Homo sapiens: one gene and its partners. The protein of the gene in region 1 purifies or fractionates together with the protein of each later gene. This does not show direct contact. Each region holds a gene or a part of one and is shown on either strand. Other genes may lie near its edges. The genes, in order: RO60, SMC4, NSRP1, PSMB7, LRRFIP1, WASHC5 and TNPO1.

Region 1 (3,500 bases):
CATGGCCAGCGCAATTACAGAACCGGGTAGGATAAAACTGCTTTAAGGAATTTTTATTTTCACTGGAAAAACAAAATAGAAGATATACTCACAGGAAACATTTACTCATTTAAGATGATTTTGCACCAAAATCTGGAAGATAGCAAGAGTCACAATACTTGAGAAGTTCCTGCATGTTAGTGTTAACTTTTGATCAAGTTATTTAGCATTCAAAAATAACATAATAGGCTCAGTTGGCATAGAGATGTGTTTCATGTGGCCTATACAATATTTTTGGGTAAAAATGAATTCTTTGTCATTATCTTTAAAAATCGACATAAAAACCCATATTCTGGCTTCTCTTGAAAGTAAGTTTTTTTTCTTTTGGCAGCACTAAGTCAATACGTGTCTACACCACTTGTCAGGGCACACTCTGTTCAGTCACCACACCCTAACAACTCTCTATTACATCACTGTGTTTGTTTGTTTGTTTGTTTGTTTGAGACAGAGTCTCACTCTGTTGGCCAGGCTGGAGCACAGTGGCACGATCTTGGCCCACTGTAACCTCTGCCTCCTCAGTTCAAGTGATTCTCCTGCCTCAGCCTCCTGAGTAGCTGGTATTACAGGCATGTGCCACCACGCCCAGCTAATTTTTTTTTATTATACTTTAAGTTCTAGGGTACATGTGCACAACGTGCAGGTTTGTTACATATGTATACATGTGCCATGTTGGTGTGCTGCACCCATTAACTCGTCATTTAACGTTACGTATATCTCCTAATGCTATCCCTCCCCCCTCCCCCCACCCCACAACAGGCCCTGGTGTGTGATGTTCCCCTTCCTGTGTCCATGTGTTCTCATTGTTCAATTCCCACCTATGAGTGAGAACATGCAGTGTTTCGTTTTTTGTCCTTGCGATAGTTTGCTGAGAATGATGGTTTCCAGCTTCATCCATGTCCCTACAAAGGACATGAACTCATCCTTTTTATGGCTGCATAGTATTCCATGGTGTATATGTGCCACATTTTCTTAATCCAGTCTATCATTGCTGGACATTTGGGCTGGTTCCAAGTCTTTGCTATTGTGAATAGTGCCGCAATAAACATACGTGTGCATGTGTCTTTATAGCAGCATGATTTATAATCCTTTGGGTATATACCCCGTAATGGGATTGCTTGGTCAAATGGTATTTCTAGTTCTAGATCCCTGAGGAATCGCCACACTGACTTCCACAATGGTTGAACTAGTTTACAGTCCCACCAACAGTGTAAAAGTGTTCCTGTTTCTCCACATCCTCTCCAGCACCTGTTGTTTCCTGACTTTTTAATGATCGTCATTCTAACTGATGTGAGATGGTATCTCATTGTGGTTTTGAATTGCATTTCTCTGATGGCCAGTGATGATGAGCATGTTTTCATATGTCTTTTGGCTGCATAAATGTCTTCTTTTGAGAAGTGTCTGTTCATATCCTTCGCCCACTTTTTGATGGGGTTGTTTTTTTCTTGTAAATTTGTTTGAGTTCTTTGTAGATTCTGGATATTAGCCCCTTGTCAGATGAGTAGATTGCAAAAATTTTCTCCCATTCTGTAGGTTGCCTGTTCACTCTGATGGTAGTTTCTTTTGCTGTGCAGAAGCTCTTTAGTTGAATTAGATACCATTTGTGAATTTTGGCTTTTGTTGCCATTGCTTTTGGTGTTTTAGACATGAAGTCCTTGCCCACGCCTATGTCCTGAATGGTATTGCCTAGGTTTTCTTCTAGGGCTTTTATGGTTTTAGGTGTAACATGTAAGTCTTTAATCCATCTTGAATTAATTTTTGTATAAGGTGTAAGGAAGGGATCCAGTTTCAGCTTTCGAGATGGAGTTTTGCCACGTTGGGCACACTGTTCTCAAACCCCTGACCTCAGGTGATCCACACTCCTTGGCCTCCCAAAGTGCTAGCATTACAGGCATGAGCCATGGTGCCTGGCCTCACCGTGGTGGTTTTATTTATTTTATTTGCTTGTCCCTCATAGACATTTTAATGTTGTAATCCAATCCCTGCTGTTTTACAGAAGTGGTGAAACTAAGACCTAGAAAGACCACCATTTATTGGCAGAGTATAGGCTAGAACCCAGACTTTCTCACCCCCAATCCAAGGCTCTTTTCTCTTTCTTCTATTGGAAGAAATTGTGGAGGAAATCAACAAGTTACTGTTTCCTTTTTTTTTTTTTTTTGAGCAGTAATACTTCTCAGCTATTAAAACATAGTGTAAAAGAAGCTACCCTGTCCACTTCTACTTATTTCTGCTGTTTTTGTAAATATATATATTTTATTCAACAGCAAAAAGAGACAAGTGAATATAATTAATATAATATAATACATTACAATACAATACAATATTAATTGAGATAGATCTGTACTCTCGTGAGTTGTTCTGAGATTATGGACCTGAAACTTTCTAATGCTGGTGTCTTTAAAAAGAAAAGAAAGAAAAGCCTCTGTAACAAAATACTCAGGATACAGGTTTTTTTACTCTAAAGTCTCATATTTAAATAGTAATGATGGAATAAGAAAATTAATTCACCCCATTTGCTTAATTGTTATATCATGGAAAGCAGCATCCCAGTGTAAGGGCATTAACTCTTGTGTATCCAGTTATGTTGATCATATAATGCATTTTGAGGAAACATGTTCTGTTTTTTTACTTGGTAATCCTGCATGCTTTTTCAATTCTTTATCTTGTTAAAGGACTTGCAATTGTGACCAAATATATTACAAAGGGCTGGAAAGAAGTTCATGAATTGTATAAAGAAAAAGCACTCTCTGTGGAGACTGAAAAATTATTAAAGTATCTGGAGGCTGTAGAGAAAGTGAAGCGCACAAGAGATGAGCTAGAAGTCATTCATCTAATAGAAGAACATAGATTAGTTAGAGAACATCTTTTAACAAATCACTTAAAGTCTAAAGAGGTGAGTGAATTATATGTTACAGCATGTGATTAAACATGAGTAATTTAGTGTAGGTGCTAAAAGGATAAACTTGGGGTAGCTATATATTTATACTTTTAAAAAGAAATTATTTAAAATATATCTTGAAATTGATGTCTGTTTAAAACACCTACCATGATGTCCAACATGATGTAGGTGGCATTTGTGTTAGTTTCACTCCAGAAAATCTACTGCCTTGCTAATTAAAAAAAAAATCATCTATGCATTTCCTTCATAAAATATACTTCACATCCTTTTTCTAGTAAAAAACAAGTTAGCTTATTTGATAAGCCTTTTACTTAGACATTTTTCATTCTGAAAGTACTTTGAACCCCAAATGAAAGCCTCAGAGACTGTATTATGAATATTTTTTTATATAGGTATGTTATACTGATTTATTTTCCCTTAATTCCTGGTATTTCTGCCTATGTTATTGCAATAGGTATGGAAGGCTTTGTTACAAGAAATGCCGCTTACTGCATTACTAAGGAATCTAGGAAAGATGACTGCTAATTCAGTACTTGAACCAGGAAATTCAGAAGTATCTTTAGTA
Region 2 (3,500 bases), on another chromosome or scaffold:
TTTTTTCTTTTTTTGGTAGAGATGGGGTTTCGCCATGTTGCCCAAGCTGGTCTCAAACTTCTGAGTTCAGGCAGTCTGCCTGCCTCAGCCTCCTAAAGTGCTGGGATTACAGGCGTCGGCCACCACATTGGTACAATGAAATCGATTTTTGTTCCTAAATTCTAGCCTTGACCCAGGGGGATTTTCCCCTCATAGCCTAGGCAGTCATATATTGACTAGTTAATAATATTTTAGAAACAGTTAGTTTTACTAAAATTGTTATACAGTTTTGGAAATGGCATTTTAGGAGCTTCAATTTCTTTTTTTTTTTTTCCTCCCTATAGTTATGAGTTGCAGAAACGAATTGCTGAAATGGAAACTCAAAAGGAAAAAATTCATGAAGATACCAAAGAAATTAATGAGAAGAGCAATATACTATCAAATGAAATGAAAGCTAAGAATAAAGATGTAAAAGATACAGAAAAGTAATAATATTTTGGGAAGTACTAAAAGTATTTAGATAATTGTATTACATGTGTATTTATATATAAAGTTACTTCTAGCACATTGTGAGTGTAAGACATTTGCCAGCATATCAAGTGGTGGCCCCCTTAGTGAAAAAAAAAAACTTGCCTTGCATCCAGTTCCTTGTTACAGATGAAATTCCCTACTCTGAAGTCTTAGAACCGTGGGGATGCTACCCCCTAGTGGCGTAGCACAGTAACAAACAATAAGCATTTGGCTTCACAGTTTAATCTTTTAGTAGTCCACAAATCTGATAGAGGGATAGGATTTGGGTTTTTCTAGATAGATTTTTAAGGGTTTTATCATGTCCCTACTTGATGCCATTTTTCAATGACACTAGTATCTCTAATTATTTTTAAATAAAAAAATTTGTATAGTAAGTTTATTGTATAGTAACTTGTAAGTATATTCGTAAAAGGTAAAACCAAAATTTTACTCCTATGGTAAAATTTTTATATACCTAGACATTGTAGTCACTGGAAAATGTGTTATTTTCCCTCCAACTTAGAAAGGCAAAATAGCTGTCATAATCAAAAATACAGGTGCTTCTTCAACTATGGGGAGAGGGATCATCTTGGAATAAGGAGAGTTTTAGGATCCTGCCTTATTAAGAGCCTGGACATATTTATAGAGGAAGTGTTCCAGGTAGGAAATGTGGTTTTAAAATATGTGCACATTCAAAATAATGACTTACAATATACTTGCTTTGCTAGGAAACTGAATAAAATTACAAAATTTATTGAGGAGAATAAAGAAAAATTTACACAGCTAGATTTGGAAGATGTTCAAGTTAGAGAAAAGTTAAAACATGCCACGAGTAAAGCCAAAAAACTGGAGAAACAACTTCAAAAAGATAAAGAAAAGGTAGGTGTTAGAAAAAAATTCTTAAAATTTCACGTCTGAATATCATACCTAGTTTTCATGGATGTGTTTGCCCCTTATTGCCTAAGAGAATGAATTAGTATTCTAAATGTTGTTTTAAGGTTTGTCTCTGAACATGATTTTACCCCCTCAAGGGAAACCTTGCTTCTACTGACTTTATTTTGCAGGAGGTTTTTTGTTTGGTTTTGGAATTTTGCAGAGATGGGGTCTCAGTCTGTTGTCCAGGCTAGCGTGCAGTGGTATGATTATAGTCTTGAACTCCTGGGCTTAAGAAACCTACCTCAGCCTCCCAAAGTAACGTGGACTACAGGTGTGAGCCATTGCTCCTAGCTTGACTTTGAGTTTTAAAGTTTATATTACAATAATATGTTATTGGGAAAACATTTACCAAATCAGGAGTTCCATTTTGGTGTTAATTTTAATTTTCTTTTTCCTAAAGTAGTAGTTTTTAAAGATATTTAAGTTAGGTATTACAGACTTAAAAATATTGCCTGTCTTCTACAAAAACTAAGCTAACAGGATCAGAGCAGGATTTCCCAAGAATTACCAATGTTGGCCAGGCACAATGGCTTACACCTGTATTCCCAGTGCTTTGGGCGGCCAAAGTTGGAGAATTGCTTGATGCCAGGAGTTTAAGACCAGCCTGGGCAACATAGTAAGATCCCATCTCTACAGAAAATCCAAAATTAGCCAGGCTCAGTGGAACTTGCCTAAAAGTCCTAGCTAGTCAGGAGAGTGAGGCGGCAGGATGCCTTGAGTTCAAGATTCCAGTGAATAGTGATCAAGCCACTGCATCCAGCCTGGGTGACAAAGTGAGACTCTGTGTCTTAAAGAGAGATAGGAAAGCTCATAATTTGGAATCTCTTAAGCTGTGTTCATGTTCATAGCTCTGTCATATTTAAACAGATATGATACCTTAACCCCAGCCCCGCAAAAAAAAAGCTTTGTTCCATATGGTTACACAATAATTATAGATTAGGCTCTACTTTACGCTATAAGCATTTTCTAAATGTATTTGTTCACAAAATACTTTCTGCTTAGCACAGCTGATAAATACGTTGAGTCAGTGTTTAAGGAAGTGGCATTTTGGGAAATGTTGAACTTCACAGGTACTAGATAATCAGAGTAAACAAAATAACAAGGCTTTGGGGGTAACCCCAAAGACTTGACAGACTTAGCTAAGTGTAACTGTTACAGAGTGATTAGCCTTTAGGCATAGACTGCATGGATAAGTGATTATTATCAGAAGATGTTAATGGAGTAAAATATTAGCCCTACATGATGACTCTGGAAGAGTAAAGTTGTGAAAGATTTTAGGGTTGGGGAGATGGTAAAGATAATTTGTGGTAAGTTATGATATACCAGGAAGGATAGTTTAGAAAATTCCGTGTAGTCAGAGCATATTTATAGCTAAAGAAGAATAATTACAACCTGAAATCAGGAGAGAAGGATGACAGACCTGAGGCCCTGCCAGAGACAGTTTTCCTTCATAAGAGGTCAGGTGTTTGTAGAAGTAGTTTTACTATTAGATTGAGAGAATATAGAAATTACAGTGAATAGTCGGGAAAATACTTGTTAAAGCTAGCTAATTTAACTCTGATTATAAAGAAAAGAAGAACTAGAGGACCCTGAGAAATGCCTTTAAATATGTCAAATATTGATAGTATTGGGTAACATAAAGATGTATGCTCCTATAACTTGTTTTATAATCTCAGGTTGAAGAATTTAAAAGTATACCTGCCAAGAGTAACAATATCATTAATGAAACAACAACCAGAAACAATGCCCTCGAGAAGGAAAAAGAGAAAGAAGAAAAAAAATTAAAGGAAGTTATGGATAGCCTTAAACAGGAAACACAAGGGCTTCAGAAAGAAAAAGAAGTAAGTTTTTTTTTTTTATCAGTGTTTATTTTGGTGGCTTTTTTTTTTTTAACTTAAAGATTATTTTTTCAAAAATACTGAAACCTGAACTGGTAAGTTTGGACTTTTAATGTCCAACATTCCTAAAACTAGTCAACCTAGACTTAGATGACTATTCTTTTAATTCCTGCTGACATGTTTTTTAAAAAGTTTACTAAATGAGAGTTTGTAGTAGTAGCAGAAGGTGTGATGTCA
Region 3 (3,500 bases), on another chromosome or scaffold:
AATATTTATAAAAACTGACTATATACTGGACCATAAAGTAAACCTCTACAGGTTTTAAAGGAATGAAACAATACAGTGCAGTGTCTTGGAATCCAAAATAATCATGTTAGGGACTGGGTGTGGCAACTCATGCCTGTAATCCCAACACTTTGGGGGGCGAAGACGGGCGGATCTCCTGAGGTGAAGAGAGCGCCTGGCCATCTAAAAATATAAAAATTAGCCAGGTGTGGTGATGCACACCTGAAATCCCAGCTATCAGGAGGCTAAGGCAGAAAAATCGCTTGAATCCAGGAGGTGGAGGTTGCAGTGAGCTGAGATCGTGCCGCTGCACTCCAGCCTAGGTACAGAGCAAGACTCCATCTCAAAAACAAAAACAAAAACAAAACAAAACAAAACAAAACAAAAAACCCCAAAAAACAAACAAGCAAAAAACCAAAGTAATCACATTAGGAATGAATAACAAAAAGGTAATCAAAAACCTCCGTTATGTTCAGAAATTAATAATAGATGGGTCAAACAAGAAATCATAATGCAAATCAGAAAATGTTTTGCATGAAACAACAAAAATACTGCCTATCAAAATCTGTAAGATACAGCTACAGAAGTACTTAGAGGGAAACATATAGCCTTAAATGCATATATTAGAAAAGAGAACAGAAAACAGAGCTATGCAGCAATCTCAAAAAGTTAGAAAAATAACAAAATAAACCCAAAGAAAACAGAATGAAGAACACACTGATCTGTCAGGACAGAAAATGAAGTAGAAACAAACAAAATGTATATAGTATCATATTAGCTCATTGTATAAGGCTCGCCAAACCTTGGTATTATCAGACTTTTTCAATCTAGATAATTGCAGCGAAAGAAAAGGAAACCATCCTATTCTGCCCAGTCTCACTTATGATGCAAAAATCTTCAATACTTAAAAACTCTTAATGAAGCTTTAGTAAGCCAAATGCAACAATATATGAAAATGATAACATTTTATGCTTATGTTAAGTTTATACCACTTATGTGAAGTTACAATGATTGATTTTCTAAAGTTAAGCTGACTTTACATTATTGGTATAAAACCAACATGGTCATGAAGCAGTATCCTTTTTGTATGTAGTTCACCATTTAAACAAATAAACAAACAACAAAACCCTCCAACTAAGAAAATAATTTCCTTAGATTAGCAACAAATATCTATCAGAGACCTACAGCAAATGTTTTATTTACTGATGACATACTGAAAGTTTTCCCAATGAAACGGAATATGACAATAATGTTGCCATCATCAGTTCTGTAAACTTGAGGTCCACATAGAAGAAAAAAATAGTTTAAAGTACCCCATTTTAAAAAGCATTTTCTCTAAGATTTAGTAAATGCAATCAAGCTAGTATTCTTCATAGTAAAATGAAAAATAATTTCAATTCGTATGGATAAAGACATTCGATGAGCTGAATCAATCAAGTGGGGAACAAAGGGAAAAGTATGTAATATAGGTGCGAGAAAAAATCAGCAGAAAGCAGGTGAAAGGTGTAAGAGTTGTAGCAGCATTCCTAATTTCCAAGCAAACTACAAAAAGTCCCACTAAACAGATAAAGTGGCTTGAACAAGACAGAGTTAAGAATAAAATCAGATTTGGGATTCATGCTTTAAGTGAAGAAAAAAAGGCAGCACAAAAATGTTAAAATAATCCTGGAAAACAAGATACCTGTATTACCTTGGATAAGTTACCCAACTCTCCAGAACTAAGTCTCCCATTTATATAGTGAGGAAGTTGAACTTAATGGTATCTCCAAAATTCTGACTCAAAGCACTCCAGTATTTATGTTAAATAATCACTGTTTTTTATGTTTTATGTGTATATTAAATCATTCTGAGGCTGCTGAGTTACACATTATATTTCACTGTGAAACTCTGACATTATCTTAAAATGACTAAATATATCCTTCTGTGCCAATTCGTCCGGGAGGGTGTGAAACACAGTGGTTAAAAGCCTAGGTTCTGAGGTTTCACTGTCTAGTTTTGAACACAGCCCTACCATTTATTAACTATGTGGTCTCATGCAAGTCACATAAATTCTTCTTGCCTTCATTTCCTTAACTATAAAATAAGGATTATAAAAGCATCTATCTCATAGAATTATTGTAAGAATTAAAGATCATTCTTAAAACATAGTTGTCATGATGCCTGGCACATAGAAAGTGCTTAATAAACTTATCTTTATGCAGGTTTCCAGTTAGACAAAGAGGAAATAGGACCAAAAATTATAAAGCTAATGGAGAGGATAAATAATTCAAAATGAAAAACAAAGGCACCTCGCTATTGTTTAATTTCATTACATTCTATAGCAGAAAATCTAAGATATACTAGTCTACAATAGCAGAAAAATTAGTAAACCTTCAGGCCTAGTTCGATAATTAATAGTATGATCTTAAGGAGCACTTTATCCTTTTTGAGTTTCAGATTTCTTAATCAGTACTATGGGCAAGTTTGTGAGAACTGTAAAAGATAAATGTATGTAAAAAGCACTTGGAAACAAGCACGTCTTTTAAAAATTATCAGGCCGCGCACGGTGGCTCACGCCTGTAATCCCAGCACTTCAGGAGGCTGAGGTTGGCGGATCACCTGAGGTCACGGGTTCCAGACCAGCCTGACCAACACGGTGAAACCCCGTCTCTACTAAAAATATAAAAATTAGCTGGGCATGGTGGCATGCGCCTTTAGTCCCAGCTACTCGGGAGGCTGAAGCAGGAGAATTGCCTGAACCCAGGAGATGGAGACTGCAGTGAGCCGAGAGTGCACCACGGCACTCCAGCCTGGGCAACAGAGCAAGACTCAATCTCAAAAAAAAAAAAAATCTATATATCTATATATCTATATATTTGTATCTATCTCTGATATTCTTCTTTCTGGGCAGATGAGTTTCAAATAATTATAAGTTTGTGAAACCATTTTGGTTGTGAAAAGGTTTTTTTTTTCCCTGCAAGTAAGCTCACTAGCAAGAATTTAATAATAACAACAGGCCAAACAATCCATTATTAGACTAATGAGTCATCTACAAGCAGAACTGGTTTAATCTATAGCACAGCAATAAGGAGCTAATTCTTCATTGTGTTTTTCCTTAAATCTATTCTGTTTTAGTCTCAGCACCTAGATACCAAAACTGATGCTTAAAAATGAGCCGGAATGCTTCACTGAATGCACTTATCCCAGTCTTCTACCTTACCTGTTTCATGGCCTGCTTCTTAGCAGCTTCCCTCTGAAGGCTTTCACTCACAGAGGTCTGTAAAACAGAAATATATTGTCACTTTTTAAACAAATTTAAAATTTCTTTTCCAGTACGAGCGTCCCCTATCTAAAATACATGGGACCAGAAGTGTTTTGTATTTCAGATTTTTAAAATACTTACTGGTTCAGCACCCCAAATCTGAAGATCTGATATCTGATGCTCCAATGAGCATTTCATTTGAGCTTCACATTAGTGCTCAAAAAAGTTTTAGATTTTAGAA
Region 4 (3,500 bases), on another chromosome or scaffold:
TTTCTTCCAACCTGGAGCTCCACTCCCTCTCCACTGGCCGTCTTCCCAGAGTTGTGACAGCCAATCGGATGCTGAAGCAGATGCTTTTCAGGTAAGTTTCCAGAATGGGGATTCCTACTAGTATCTTCTTCTCATATCTTAGATTTTTTTCAGCCAAGAGAAGCCTGGAAAGTAGCAAAAACACATTCAGAAATACACATTTTGTTCCGGAAATCAGTTGTTATATTAAAGAGCCATTTTAAATGGTTTTTGATGGTGCATTTGAATTTCTGGGGCCTGATTTTTTTCATGAGTAAATCACATGTCACCAGTTGAGTCATTTCCTGGAGCATAGGGATATTACTGGATAAGAGAAACTTTTTTGTTCACGGTAAGAAAGTTATAGCTGGAGGAACTATCAAGTTGTCTTGTGAAACTACTCTCTCCTCCCCATAAACACAAACCCAAATGATTGTCTCTCCTTCCCCCCACCCCCTCCCTTTAGGGGCAAAATAACAGTGAATGAAAAGTGATATTTATAATTGGCTGTCAGTGGGTATGATAATATTAATATTAACCAACCTTTATCTACCTCTTACTCTGTTCCAGGACCTATGCTAAAGCGCTTTATGCACGATTTCATCCTTTTAACTCTGAGATAGGGACTATTAGCGTCTCCTATTTGTAAGTGAAGAAATTGAGGTTTAAAGAGGTGCAGTAGCTTGCCTGACCTGACCTTCATTCTCTGCTGACTCACAGCTCATATTAGTAGTTTTGTTTCTCTTTCTCCTTTAATAATTGCGTCATTACTTTATGTTTGTATGGGTCTTGGCAGTTTTCAAAGTGTGTTTTCTCATTTGCTTCTCATAAGAGAGGCAGTGATTTTAGGAGAAGTAGCCTGGGCATTTAGTCTTGGGTTGGAATACTGGCTTCTCCTTTTGGGACTTGCCTTACCTTTAACAAATTCTTTGCCTTTTTCCTTCTGTGTAGAATGGATATCATAATACCTGCCCCTAGTGGGGTGGTTGTGAGAATTAAAGGGGAGCACGGATAGACAGTAAAGATTTTAAACTGGTGGCTCATAGGCCATCAGCTTGTAGGGAAATTTGTTTGGGTCATATGGCCTTTTTTTCTTTTTAAATAGTGGCTAACAATTGTAAATGGGGAGATTTGAATTAAAAGTCTAGATTTTGGCTTGGCACGGTGGCACACGCCTGTAATCCCAGCACTTTGGGAGGCCAAGGTTGGCGGATCACCTGAGGTAAGGAGTTCGAGACCAGCCTGGCCAACATGGTGAAACATCTCTACTAAAAGTACAAAAATAGCCGGGCATGGTGGCGCTTGCCTGTAATCCCAGCTACTTGGGAGGCTGAGACAGGAGAATCGCTTGAACCTGGAAGGTGGAGGTTGCCGTGAGCCAAGATCACGCCACTGCACTCTAGCCTGGGTGACAGAAGAAGACTCCGTCTCAAAAAAAAAGAAAAAAAAAAAGTCTAGATTTCTGTCTTTTGAAAACATTGGAAACATGTGGCCGTAATCTTCGGGAACTCATTGGTGGTTGTTGCCTTAGAAGTGGGAGTGGGTGCTCTGTCACTTTCTCTGCCTGGCTCACTTCACTGTTCCCTTCAGGGCCCTGGCCTTCCTGATAATTTGCGGGTCCTCATCTATGTGTCTAGCATGGCCTGTGGGTTTTCAGTAGTGTATATGAGGTTGTAGCAAGGCCAGTAGTATAGTTCCCATTTTACAAATGAGACCAAAGCCTAGAGTCATATGGATAGGAAGCCTTGTCTATCCAATTGCTGCTTTATGTTTGTGTACGTATCATTATTCTAATCCAGGAGAATTATTGCCAACCAAATTCTCCCAGTACAGTGAGTAGAACTTGTTAAAGCACACCTATTGATCAGATTTCTGAAAAGATTTGTGGATTTTAATTTTAAATATAAAGCTCCCTCTGGTGGCTTGCTTGGTACATTATATATAAGGCTTTTTTGAAAACTTTTTTTCTACACGATGTGTCTATGTAATAAAGGCAATTTTTAAGCTTGTAAAATTGCTGCAAATAAGATGTTTCAAGATTCTTTGTAATGTCATTTAAAACAATTAGCAAAAAAATCTAGCAAATGTTTCTGTTAATCACTTCAGAATGTTTTAAGAATCCTAACATCTCGGCTGGGCGCGGTGGCTCATGCCTGTAATCTCAGCACTTTGGGGGGCCGAGGCAGGCAGATCACAAGGTCAGGAGATTGAGACCATCCTGGCTAACATGGTGAAACCCCATCTCTACTAAAATTACAAAAAATTAGCCGGGCGTGGTGGCGGGCGCCTGTAGTCCTAGCTACAGGAGAATGGCATGAACCCGGGAGGTGGAGCTTGGCAGTGAGCCGAGATTGTGCCACTGTACTCCAGCCTGGGTGAAAGTGCGAGACTCCGTCTCAAAAAAAAAAAAAAAATTCTAAATTCTCTTTTTTCAGTGTTTTGTCATTTTTTAGTTCAAGATACTTTGTAAAAGTTAAATTTTATCAAAATTTGAGGACCATTTAAAAATATAAACCAGCATAATTATAGTCTTTTATGTCCTCTTAACATTTTTGGTGAGTTACATAAAATGAGAGTGGTATAAGGAAAGAGTTTAGGATTTGATTTTAGAACTTTGGTTCATCTCCCACCTACAGCACTGACTGTCGTATAAATTTGGGTGATTCTTTCTCAATAAAATGAGGATAATAGTTTCTGTCTATCTGACTTTTGAGGAGGACAGGAATAAAGAAGCTAGGCTCTGACCTTGCATACTACAGAGCCTACTGCGTAGTTAGAGCCCCGTAAAATTCAGTCTGAAAAAGAGTACAAGGTGTTCTTGGTACTGCTGTACTTTTTTTTTCTGAACAGCCCATTTCCTTGTATGTGAGTCAGTGAGAAAATAAGGTTTGATAAGCAGAAGTGATGTCTTTTCCCTTACTTAAGCACTGCCTTTATCTCACACCTATCCTGGCTATATGTAGTTGATGTAAGTAATGCTTGTTCTGTGAGCATGGAACCTCCTTGTTGAGTTTCATAAAAATGTTAGTGAAATGCTGTTGTGTGTTCTAGAAACTATTACTTGAATACGTAGAGACTCTTATATTGTAACTTTTTTTCTTATAAACATAATGTACATTTATTGTAGGAAATTTAGAAAATACTGAAAAGCCCAAAGAACAAAATGAAAACTTTGCCATTCAGGGAGCATCACTCTTGGTTTGGTGTATGTTATTCCAGTCTTCTGTCTCTTAAGTTCTTCCCTTCCTCTCTTCCTTTTATATTGCTAGTACATGTTCATGGTAAAAACAAAACAAAGCTGGAAGATATGAACAAAAAGAATGTAAAAAACTACCTGGATTCCTGCCACCCACGAGCAGTTAGTGCTAAGAGATTGTTACACACCCTTCAAGGTTTTAAAAATAAGTTCAGTAATATTTAGAAAATGGGATTATAGTTGTACTGACTGTAGTATAGCCTAGTCTTCTCACCTAACAGTGCAT
Region 5 (3,500 bases), on another chromosome or scaffold:
AGAAATAGCTACCAATGGAGAGACTTCCGACACCCTCAATAATGTTGGATACCAAGGTCCTACCAAGATGACAAAAGAAGAGTTAAATGCCCTCAAGTCGACAGGGGATGGGACCCTAGGTAAGTATTTGCTTTCCTTCGGCTCCTCACACCTTTCCACTCAGCATTGGTTCACCCTCCATGCACTGCTGGGGTTGGAGCCACCGTCGCTGATGGGTTAACAGTCACCAGCATGCCATTTGTTTCATCACTTCATGGTAATTTCCTTGCCCACCCGGTGTGGTCACCCACGTGTTGTCTGGCATGCATCTCTGTGTAGTGCACCATCAATGGCTCAAGTGAACCTTTTCTTTTGCTGCTCAAAGCTACCAAGCAAGACTGTGAAGGCAAAAGGAAAACAGTCTCAAAATTAAGTAACAATGTGGAGAGTACTATTTGGTTTTCCTCAGACACATATATATCTGTACCTATAAAGTGTGGCTTTTTAAACCGATTCTATGACAGAATTATCAAAAGATCAGAATGGTTGAGGCCGTCAAGTCAGTTGGCCATATTTGCAAGCCAACATCGACATCCTGGGCAGCATTCAGCGCTTTGAGGGTACGGGGTGCCTGTGGACAGCAGGTCCGTCTGTGTTGCCTTTTTCAAGCCACCGCTCGAGGTGGGCAGGCGGCCGTGGTAGTGGGTGTGGCGGTGCTGAGAGTCTGAGTATGCCCACCTTTGTCAGAGGGGATCCTCCTTTGTATGCCACGTGTTTGCTTCTGAAAGAATATAAAACTGGGGAATCCAGTAGATCAGAGGAATATTTTATACCATTTTCAATGATCTGATTTGTCATAATTTGTCATAAGAGTTGGCTTTGGGAGAAACCTTCAGATTCTGGCGTGCAGCCTGAAGTTGCAGCGTGCAAGTGAGGCCTCATCTGTCACTGGTCACCCTCTGCGTTCCAGTGTTTTACAAAGAGGCTGGAATAAGGTCAGGGTCCGTGACTTTTCATTTTAATGTAGAAGCTTTCATCTTATTTCTTTTTATTTATGGAAATGTAGACACCTCCAGGCCCCATCTTCTCAGGCCTCGCATTCCAGGGAGGTACCTCATTCATTATCTTTATGACTATTAAAGAAACACAGCTCTTTTCAATTGTGTAAAAAAAGTTGTGGCCTAGTGCAGTGGCTCACACTTCTAATCCCAGCGCTGCGGGTGGCCAAGGCTGGAGGATCACTTAAGACCAGGAATTCCAGGCCAGCCTGGCAACCTAGCAAGATTCCGTCTCTAGATAGGTATGTAGTATCTATATACCGTTGTTGAGAAAAGATAAATTAATCAATTTCCATCATACCTTTATATGAGCTACCCGAACAGCTAGGAATCTGATTACGCTGCTCTTACTCAAATACACATTTTATAAATCTTTGATAACCATTGTGAAATGTTGTAAGAACCAGAAATGTCAGTTTTGAAAGTGGCCTTCAAATGACTTTTGATCACATATTCCTTCAGCAAAGAATTGTAGGATCCAATATGTATGTTTATTTTAAATCTACATATGTATACTATTTCATTAATATAAAATGTACGTTATAAAATATATGCAAAGATATGCAAAGAAGTTTTAGAGTAAAACTCTAAATAGAATTCCTAATATTTCCCCCATTTTCCCTGGGATATGGGCACCCCACCATGGAGATCACTGGGCTATAAAATTATCTAGCTTTGACTTTCAGTAACATAGTACCATATCTAATCTGCTGGGGTTTTGTTTGGAGAGTCCAAAAATTCCAAAACAGTTTGATGTTCTTTAGACGATGAATAATTTATCATTTAATTTAGTGGTCATCTTGATCTTGAACATTTGCCTCCTGCTGGTCCTCTCTCCCTAGTCCCTTAGGGAATGGAGCAGAGGTATCAGGGCATGGACACAGGGTGTTTTCTCAGGAAAACAATAGTTGAGTGGCAGAAGATAGATTTCCTTTCATATGAGCTATTTCAAAAGCATCTTCCTTGAGACTGACCTTGAGGCTGCATTTCTAAAAGTGCACTGAATATTCTTTTTAAAAATTACTTGAAAGCTGCTTTTAGGGCTGTGTGACATGGAGTGCAGTTTGACAGCTGCAAAAGTACAAGTTGTCAAGTTGTTCATTGAGAAGTGAGAGTGGGGAATTGAACCTTCAGTCTGTTCCTAAACCCATCATTGTGGATTGTTTGGCTGCCTGATCCAGAGTTCTTTCTATTTGTTGAAACTTAACGTCACCTTTAAAAATCTGTCCACACAAGATGGCACCAGCAGCCACTCTGGCCTTTGATGTGGTGGCAGTGGCCCTCACTGACCCAAAATTTACTAATGCAACTGCTGCTTTGCCGCACAGAACTGGCAAAGGCTTGTTTCTCATGACTCTTTGATGACTCTGTCTTTAGGAATAGGGGTGGGTGGGATTTGGAACGTGTGTTTACATTCTAATGTAGATTATGTGGCCGCCACATCATGGGGTCCCTTCAATTTTCTCAATGGTCTTTTAGGAAGAGCCAGTGAAGTGGAGGTGAAAAATGAAATCGTGGCGAATGTGGGGAAAAGAGAAATCTTGCACAATACTGAGAAAGAACAACACACAGAGGACACAGTGAAGGACTGTGTGGACATAGAGGTATTCCCTGCTGGTGAGAATACCGAGGACCAGAAATCCTCTGAAGACACTGCCCCATTCCTAGGAACCTTAGCAGGTGCTACCTATGAGGAACAGGTTCAAAGCCAAATTCTTGAGAGCAGTTCTCTCCCTGAAAACACAGTACAGGTTGAGTCAAATGAGGTCATGGGTGCACCAGATGACAGGACCAGAACTCCCCTTGAGCCATCCAACTGTTGGAGTGACTTAGATGGTGGGAACCACACAGAGAATGTGGGAGAGGCAGCAGTGACTCAGGTTGAAGAGCAGGCAGGCACAGTGGCCTCGTGTCCTTTAGGGCATAGTGATGACACAGTTTATCATGATGACAAATGTATGGTAGAGGTCCCCCAAGAGTTAGAGACAAGCACAGGGCATAGTTTAGAGAAAGAATTCACCAACCAGGAAGCAGCTGAGCCCAAGGAGGTTCCAGCGCACAGTACAGAAGTAGGTAGGGATCACAACGAAGAAGAGGGTGAAGAAACAGGATTAAGGGACGAGAAACCAATCAAGACAGAAGTTCCTGGTTCTCCAGCAGGAACTGAGGGCAACTGTCAGGAAGCGACAGGTCCAAGTACAGTAGACACTCAAAATGAACCCTTAGATATGAAAGAGCCCGATGAAGAAAAGAGTGACCAACAGGGAGAGGCATTGGACTCATCGCAGAAGAAGACAAAGAACAAGAAAAAGAAAAACAAGAAGAAAAAATCCCCAGTACCCGTAGAAACCCTTAAAGATGTTAAAAAAGAGTTAACGTATCAGAACACAGATTTAAGTGAAATTAAGGAAGAAGAGCAGGTAAAGTCTACTGACAGAAAGTCAGCAGTGGAAGCCCAAAACG
Region 6 (3,500 bases), on another chromosome or scaffold:
TCCAGCTTTTCACTTAAGATAGTAGTTCAGGGTATCTAGTATGTCATGCTGCCGTTAACAGAAGTCAGTTGTAGTGATTTTTTTTCTCATTTACATTTATCTGTATCTTTAAAAATTGCTACAATAATATATGTTAATTGAGTAATTCAAAAGAACCAGTAATGATAATTACAAAATTTAGTAACCGTTTTATTGGTTTTGAATCCTTCAGACCCCTGGAATGCCCTACCAATCCTGTGGCTAATTCAAAATATGGCCCAGAATTGTCATTCCCTCCAAAATATCATCTGCCAGCGAGAATATGGGCCCCAAACATTTTGACCTTCACAGCGTTGGTATTTAATGAATGTTGCTGAAGGCAAGTACTTCATATGGTGTTGCAACTTGTTCCCTTGCAGGAATGGTCTGCCGAAAACCGACCGACCCGGTTGATTGGCCACCACTTGTCCTGGGACTGCTCACTCTGCTGAAGCAGTTCCATTCCCGGTACACCGAGCAGTTCCTGGCGCTGATTGGCCAGTTTATCTGCTCCACGGTGGAGCAGTGTACAAGGTACAGAAGACCAACCAGGACTACGTGGGACTTCTTGTCACAAAACCTAACTTAAACCTCACATTACCAAATTCCTCTTATCGCCCTAATAGAGATGGGAAATGGTTGCTCACCCTTCTCTGTAAAGCAAGTCAGGGCATACCTCCTTGTTTAGAGCAATTACAGGTGTGTCCATCCTTAGTCACCCTGCCAGGGGAACTCCATCCGGTCTACTCACATTGATTTTCCAGGAGTGACTCAGGACCATGAATAGTAACTACCATGGGGAAGAAAGTGCAGCCCTGTTCCTCTGCACTCTTGGATGCAGCTCTTCAATCTCAGCGAGCCCCTGCACTCCTGCTGGGCCACTGCCAAGAGATGATTCCACTCACTTCAGTGGGAGTCAGAGAACATATCAGTGTGTCAAAGCCTGGGCAGTGTCTGCATGTAGAGAAGCAAATTTCACAAGAGTTGCTATTTGATACAATGCTTATAAAACTTTAATTCCTGCCAGTTCTTTTCCCCTGCCCCTAAATGTGGCTTTTCTGGGATAAAGAAAAAAAAGTTATTTCCATGAGATGCTGGGTCCTGTGCCTCCTTCTCTGCTATCCTAAAGGGTCAGCCTGGCTACATAACCTTTGCTGTCATGTTTGCTTGGTCATTTTTGCCACTATAATGTAAAAAACGAATCAAAGCGGCTGGGCACAGTGGCTCAAGCCTGTAATCCCAACACTTTGGGTAGATTACTTGAGGTCAGGAGTTCAGGACCAGCCTGGCCAACATGGTGAAACCCCATCTCTACTAAAAAAACACAAAAATTAACCACATGTAGTGGTGGCCACCTGTAATCCCAGCTACTCAGGAGGCTGAGGCAGGAGGATTGCTTGAACCCAGGAGGCCTCAGAGGTGCAGTGAGCTGAGATCATGCCACTGCACTCCAGCCTGGGTGACAGAGCGAGACTCCATCTCAAAAAAAATAAAACGAACCAAAGTGATCTTCTAAGTCCACACAAAATACTACTAAGTCCTAAAACTGGAAATGATTTTCGAGGTCATTTAATTGACCTCCCACTAAGTGCATGAATGAGCTCTAGGACATCCTTGACAGGTAGTCATGCAGCCACTGCTGGAACACTCTCACCGAGGGGGCTTGTGCTACCTCTCCAGGCAGCACAGTCCACTGGCTAAGTCTTGTTCTCATTAGAAAGTTCCTGATTGTGATTATTAGAACCTGTGTCTCTGGATGTTTCACTCGCTGAGCTTTTTCCTACCTTTTGAAATCATACAGAATAATGCAGTCTCCCTCCTTTGCAACATCACTTCCGATTTTGTATGCCATCTGTTGTCTTAGGTCTTCTCAATGTTTAGATAAGCCCCTTCCACCTGTTCCCGATGTCTTGCAGTTTAGAGGCTGCTCACCATAGTGAGTGACTTTTTCTGGGTGTTCCAGTCTGTTTTTGACCATCTTAAAATGTGGCTTCCCAAACTTGTATTGAGATTCCAAGCACAGCCCTCCCCTTGGCACAGAGGAGTATTACACGTCTTCATTCTGGGCCCTCTGTGGACAGTACAGCAGCTACAATTGCAGTGATGAGTCCTTTTTTTTTTTTTTTTTTTTTTTTTTATGAGAAAGAGTCGCTCTGTCGCCCAGGTTGGAGTGCAGTGGCGTGATCTCGGCTTTGCAGTGATGGGTTTCTTGACATCCAGTGCATACCAGTGGCTCCTACTGATTTTGCATTCTTTCTAAACCCCAATGTCGTTATTTCCCGTGAGCTGCAGTCAGGCCAGCTCCTCCTCCTCTTAGTTAATGAATCGAACAACAAACACTGGTGTTTTCCTGGGATAGATGTTAAGACTTGCTTCAGAAACAAGATTTTTTAACAATTGAAAAATAGAGGAGAACTCAAAGTCTCAAAAATGAAATTGTAACAATCACGAAGTGAGGTCAGTTGGCAAGGAAAGCAGTAGGCTCATAAAAACCCAGCGCCTCTGGCCCAGGCTCCCAGAGAGGAGGGGAAGGACTCCAGTTCAGGTGGTGCGGAGGTGATTAGCAAGTAACCTCCACACAACTGGCTGTCCCAATTGTAGCTCCCTAGCTGTCAACTTGGACAGGTTCTTCTTCCTCTCTTTCTTTTTCACTAATGGCAGTAAAGGCTTAAGTGTGGCTCTAGTCCAGCATGTTATTGGCAACCCTGAGGGTGGTGATCAGGCTACAGGAGACCAGCTGTAAGTCAGGCTTTCTGATTCAGCAGAGCAAAGGAATCTAAGGAACCTGTGACGCATGGGAATTCCTTCCTTTCTCTTGCTCCAAGCAGAGCAAATATAGCCCTGGTCACAGATTGAAAGATTGAGAGCAGGGAGAATTTTTCCAGGTACAGTCATTCTTAACCCATTCAAAAAGCAAAGTTCATCAGCGAAATTAACCAGTAATGTATTAATAGTACTAAAAGTTATTTGTTAATCAGAAAATGCCAATTGGTACAGGAATTGGAAATCGTTTTAACACCTAAAAACTCCTTTTGATGTAAACAAGAAGGAACGTTAGCTCTATAAGGAGCCTGGCATGTACTTTGCTGTATTCCCAGCTCTGGAACAGTGCTTGGCACTGTAGTTGCTGAATGAATGAATACATGAGTAAAATCCCATATGAAAAATTGCTAGATGCTGTATTTATTTGATACCGTCAAATATGCAGTACATGCCAAGCACATTTCCAGATGCTGGAGAAACAAAGATGAACATATGACCTAGGCCCTCGAGGAGTTTATACTCCTGATGGGAACCCAGCACACCATTGAAAAATTAAGAGGCTTGGAGAATGCTGCTAACTATTATGACAGCCCAGGAGAATCAGGGAGGATTCCACAGGAGAAGTACCCAAGCTGAGACTCGAACAATGTCTAGAAGTTTACTTTCAAATCAGTGTGCAGGCCAGGTGCGGTGGCTCACGCCTGTAATCCCAACACTTT
Region 7 (3,500 bases), on another chromosome or scaffold:
GAAGCATAAGTTTAAGTAATGATAAATTCTTGCTTAATTTGGTACTAGATGGTGACATTGGTAGGGTTATTATTAATTTCCCCTTAATTACTTGGAGTTATTTTAAAAACATTCTTATATATGCTGCTCTGAATTTGATTCAGGTAACTTAGATTATACCAGCCAGTGGAGGCCATGTAGTTGGCTGAAAGGGCCGTATAACCTAACAGGTGTGTTAGGTCAGTCTATTCGCCCCTCCATAAGGAATATGTTCTGTACATGGGCGTGGTTCTTAATCACTCTGGAAGTATATTTCAGAATTCTGTGCATGACCCCATCTCTGGATATTCTGTTTCTCTTACTCATGTACATACTATTAGCCTATAATGAATGCCACCAAAAATTTCTCTTAAAAAAACAACAGGGTGATGTTGAAGAAGACGAAACGATTCCTGATAGTGAACAGGATATACGGCCACGTTTTCACCGATCGAGGACGGTGGCTCAGCAGCATGATGAAGATGGAATTGAAGAGGAAGATGATGATGATGATGAAATTGATGATGATGATACAATTTCTGACTGGAATCTAAGTAAGTCAGAAAGGGAAAAGCACAGTTGCCTACTTTGATGATAACTTTATTGGGGTATAATTCATCTACTGTACAGTTTACTACCCATTAAAGTATACATTTCATTGGTTTTTAGTATATTCAGAGAGCTGTTCAACCATTACCACAATCAGTTGTAGACTATGTTTTCATCACCCATACCCTTTAGCAGTAACTCCCTATTGTTCACTGGCTCTGGGCAACTACTAGTCAATATTCTGTCTCTGGGTTTGCCTATTCTAGACATTTCATGTAAATGGAGTCATACAATGCATTGTCCTTTGTGACCATCTTCTTTAACTTAGCATAAAGTTTTCACGGTTCATTTTGTAGCATTCACTTGTATTGTGAAATAATATTTCATTGTAATATGCCACATATTCTCCATTCATTGGTTGGTGGACATTTGTGTTTCTCTTTTTGTAGCTGTTGAGTTGTGATGCTATAAATACTCATGTATAATTTTTGTGTGTAGACTTTTTTTGTTTGTTTGTTTGTTTTTTTGTTTTGAGGCAGGGTCTCTGTCACCCAGGCTAGCATGATTATGCAGTGGCGCAGTCATGGCCCACCGCAGCCTTGACCTCCCTGGGCTCTGGTGATCCTCCCACCTCAGCTCCCCAAGTAGCTGGGACTACAGGTGCTCACCAATACACCTGGATGAATTTTTGTTTTTTTTTTTTTGGTAGAGACAGTTTTGCCATGTTGCCCAGGCTGGTCTTGAACTGTTGGGCTCAAGCGATCCACCCGCCTTGCCCTCCCAAAGTGCTAGGATTACAGGCGTAAGCCACTGTGTCTGGCCCAATGTGTATTCAGTTCTCTTGGGTAAACACTCAGGAGAAGGATTGTTGGGGTCATATGGTAACTGTATGTTTAACCTTTTGAGAAATAACCAGGATGTTTTCCAAAGTGACTGCACCATTCTGCTTTCCTAGCAGCATTGTCTGGAGGGTTCCAGTTTCTTCACATGCTCACTTGCTTTATTATCTCTTTATTATTATAGTCATTCTAGTGGACGTGAAGTGGTATTTTGTGGTTTTGGTTTGCATTTTCCTGGTGGACCTGCTCTTATTTTATCATTATTATATTCTTAAACTACCATTTCTCAAAAGGCTGTTTGTTTTAATACTGTAAGAACATTGCCACAAGCTTTTTTGGTTTTTCTAACATGAGTGTTTTCTGTCTGGTAATTTGCATGAAAATTGGCTATCATAGGTAATTCTAAAATAATATAAGTTGCTTTATTATATTCAAATTTATTATAAGTTGCTTTGTTATAGTCAAAATTTATGAAATATGCTTCTTAAAATATGTTAATTTCCAACCTTAGCTGCAAATCATATCACCTGTGGAGCTAGCATTCTGGCCCACGCTTCCTAATTGGGGATGAACCTAAACACCTGTGTTCTGATTTTGCTTGCTTGTTTGCTGGATTTTAAACCTCTACTGCTCTAGTTCAGGGTTTCTCAGCCTTGGCACTATTGGCATTTTGGGCCACATAATTCTTTTTTTTTTTCTACATGTGAATGCCACATCATGCATGTAATTCTTTGTTGCGGAGGCTGTCCTGCACGTTGTGGGATGTTAAGCAGCATCCCTGGCCTCTACCCAAAGATGCCAGCAGCACAAACACAGTTGTGACAACCGTTATCTCCTGGGGGAACAAAATCAACCCCAGTTTAGAGCCACTACTCTAGTTCAAAGTGTTGGGATTTCTAATAACTATGATTAAAGCAGTTAAGAACAGACATTATCAGTCTGGGCTGTGTTCTTCATTTGGTTAGATAATGCTAATTTCTCTGTTGCCTCTTCAGTTTCCTGTAACTAACATTCTATTTAGAGTGCCTAATGTGCCAGGCACTAGGCCAAGGACTTTGCATGCATATCAAAGTCTGTTTAATCATAAGTAAGAATAAAGTCATATTTAACATTTCCAACAACCTTGAATAGGCAAGAAAACTGCAGAAAGAGAGATATACCCAAGGTTAGCATAGCTAGTACTGATAGCACATCTAGTACTGGGACCCAAGTCTCACTTGTTAAGACAACACATGGTGTTTACTACTATTACAAATTACTTCCCAGTGTATCCCTACTTTCAGATTAGGGGAGCAGGATGGCTCAAGATCATTACACAGAAAACTCTACAAAATAATATACATACATGGATGGGGGAACACTTCCTCTTCACATCCCATTCTTTGTATCCTTCCAAAAGCTTTTCTGTGCGTGCTTGGGAAAACATACAGGCATCTTTTTTAGAGGAGAAGCCAGTTTTCTAAAAGTGAAATCAGATTATATGTACTCTGCTGCTTTCTTTCTGTGTATCGTATGCCTCATTCTTCCTCAGTACATACAGATTTAGATTTCCTTTTGTTGCATGTCAGTGTACTGTTTAGTTGTATGGCTCTACCATGTGGTATAACTAAGATCCTTATTGATGGGTAAGGTGTTAATTTCTGGCCAATGTAATGGTTTTGTTTTGGTTTGGTTTGGTTTTTTTTTTTTTTTTTGAGGATTTTATTATTGTCTAGTAGTTTGTGATTAGCCATTTACTATGCCTAGTTCACGTTGGAAATTTCTGATATTTTCTTAGTCCATTTTGTACTACTATAACAGGATACCTGAAGTTCAGAATGGAGGGGCTGCATCTGGTGAGAACCTCCTTGCAACATCATCTGATGACAGAAGGACACACTTAAGAGCTCAATTCACGCTTATAATAAGCCAACTCTCTTGATAACTAACCCACTCCTACAGTAACGACATTAACCCATTTATGAGGGCAGAACCCTTAAGACCTAATCATCTCTTGATAGGCCCCACCTCCCATCTTCGTTGCTTTAGGGATTAGGTTTCTAATACATGAACTTCAGGAACACGTTCCTACCCATAACAGTTAAATGATATTTT

Evidence for each region.
Region 2: the proteins of RO60 (region 1) and SMC4 fractionate together in Homo sapiens (co-fractionation; one large-scale study listed by BioGRID). This does not show direct contact.
Region 3: the proteins of RO60 (region 1) and NSRP1 fractionate together in Homo sapiens (co-fractionation; one large-scale study listed by BioGRID). This does not show direct contact.
Region 4: the proteins of RO60 (region 1) and PSMB7 fractionate together in Homo sapiens (co-fractionation; one large-scale study listed by BioGRID). This does not show direct contact.
Region 5: the proteins of RO60 (region 1) and LRRFIP1 fractionate together in Homo sapiens (co-fractionation; one large-scale study listed by BioGRID). This does not show direct contact.
Region 6: the proteins of RO60 (region 1) and WASHC5 fractionate together in Homo sapiens (co-fractionation; one large-scale study listed by BioGRID). This does not show direct contact.
Region 7: the proteins of RO60 (region 1) and TNPO1 fractionate together in Homo sapiens (co-fractionation; one large-scale study listed by BioGRID). This does not show direct contact.

What each region holds. Positions count from the first base shown.
Region 1 is NC_000001.11:193,073,112-193,076,611, forward strand, and holds part of RO60 (RNA-binding protein RO60), read left to right. Parts: intron 1-2,708; coding exon 2,709-2,929; intron 2,930-3,389; coding exon 3,390-3,500. UniProt on the Homo sapiens protein: RNA-binding protein that binds to misfolded non-coding RNAs, pre-5S rRNA, and several small cytoplasmic RNA molecules known as Y RNAs.
Region 2 is NC_000003.12:160,413,150-160,416,649, forward strand, and holds part of SMC4 (structural maintenance of chromosomes protein 4), read left to right. Parts: intron 1-323; coding exon 324-464; intron 465-1,217; coding exon 1,218-1,368; intron 1,369-3,101; coding exon 3,102-3,266; intron 3,267-3,500. UniProt on the Homo sapiens protein: Central component of the condensin complex, a complex required for conversion of interphase chromatin into mitotic-like condense chromosomes.
Region 3 is NC_000017.11:30,172,316-30,175,815, reverse strand, and holds part of NSRP1 (nuclear speckle splicing regulatory protein 1), read right to left. Parts: intron 3,275-3,500; coding exon 3,218-3,274; intron 1-3,217. UniProt on the Homo sapiens protein: RNA-binding protein that mediates pre-mRNA alternative splicing regulation.
Region 4 is NC_000009.12:124,408,943-124,412,442, reverse strand, and holds part of PSMB7 (proteasome subunit beta type-7 precursor), read left to right. Parts: coding exon 1-91; intron 92-3,500. UniProt on the Homo sapiens protein: Component of the 20S core proteasome complex involved in the proteolytic degradation of most intracellular proteins. This complex plays numerous essential roles within the cell by associating with different regulatory particles.
Region 5 is NC_000002.12:237,760,087-237,763,586, forward strand, and holds part of LRRFIP1 (leucine-rich repeat flightless-interacting protein 1), read left to right. Parts: coding exon 1-119; intron 120-2,516; coding exon of another isoform or gene 2,517-3,500.
Region 6 is NC_000008.11:125,029,293-125,032,792, reverse strand, and holds part of WASHC5 (WASH complex subunit 5), read left to right. Parts: intron 1-398; coding exon 399-552; intron 553-3,500. UniProt on the Homo sapiens protein: Acts as a component of the WASH core complex that functions as a nucleation-promoting factor (NPF) at the surface of endosomes, where it recruits and activates the Arp2/3 complex to induce actin polymerization, playing a key role in the fission of tubules that serve as transport intermediates during endosome sorting.
Region 7 is NC_000005.10:72,882,661-72,886,160, forward strand, and holds part of TNPO1 (transportin-1), read left to right. Parts: intron 1-403; coding exon 404-572; intron 573-3,500. UniProt on the Homo sapiens protein: Functions in nuclear protein import as nuclear transport receptor. Serves as receptor for nuclear localization signals (NLS) in cargo substrates.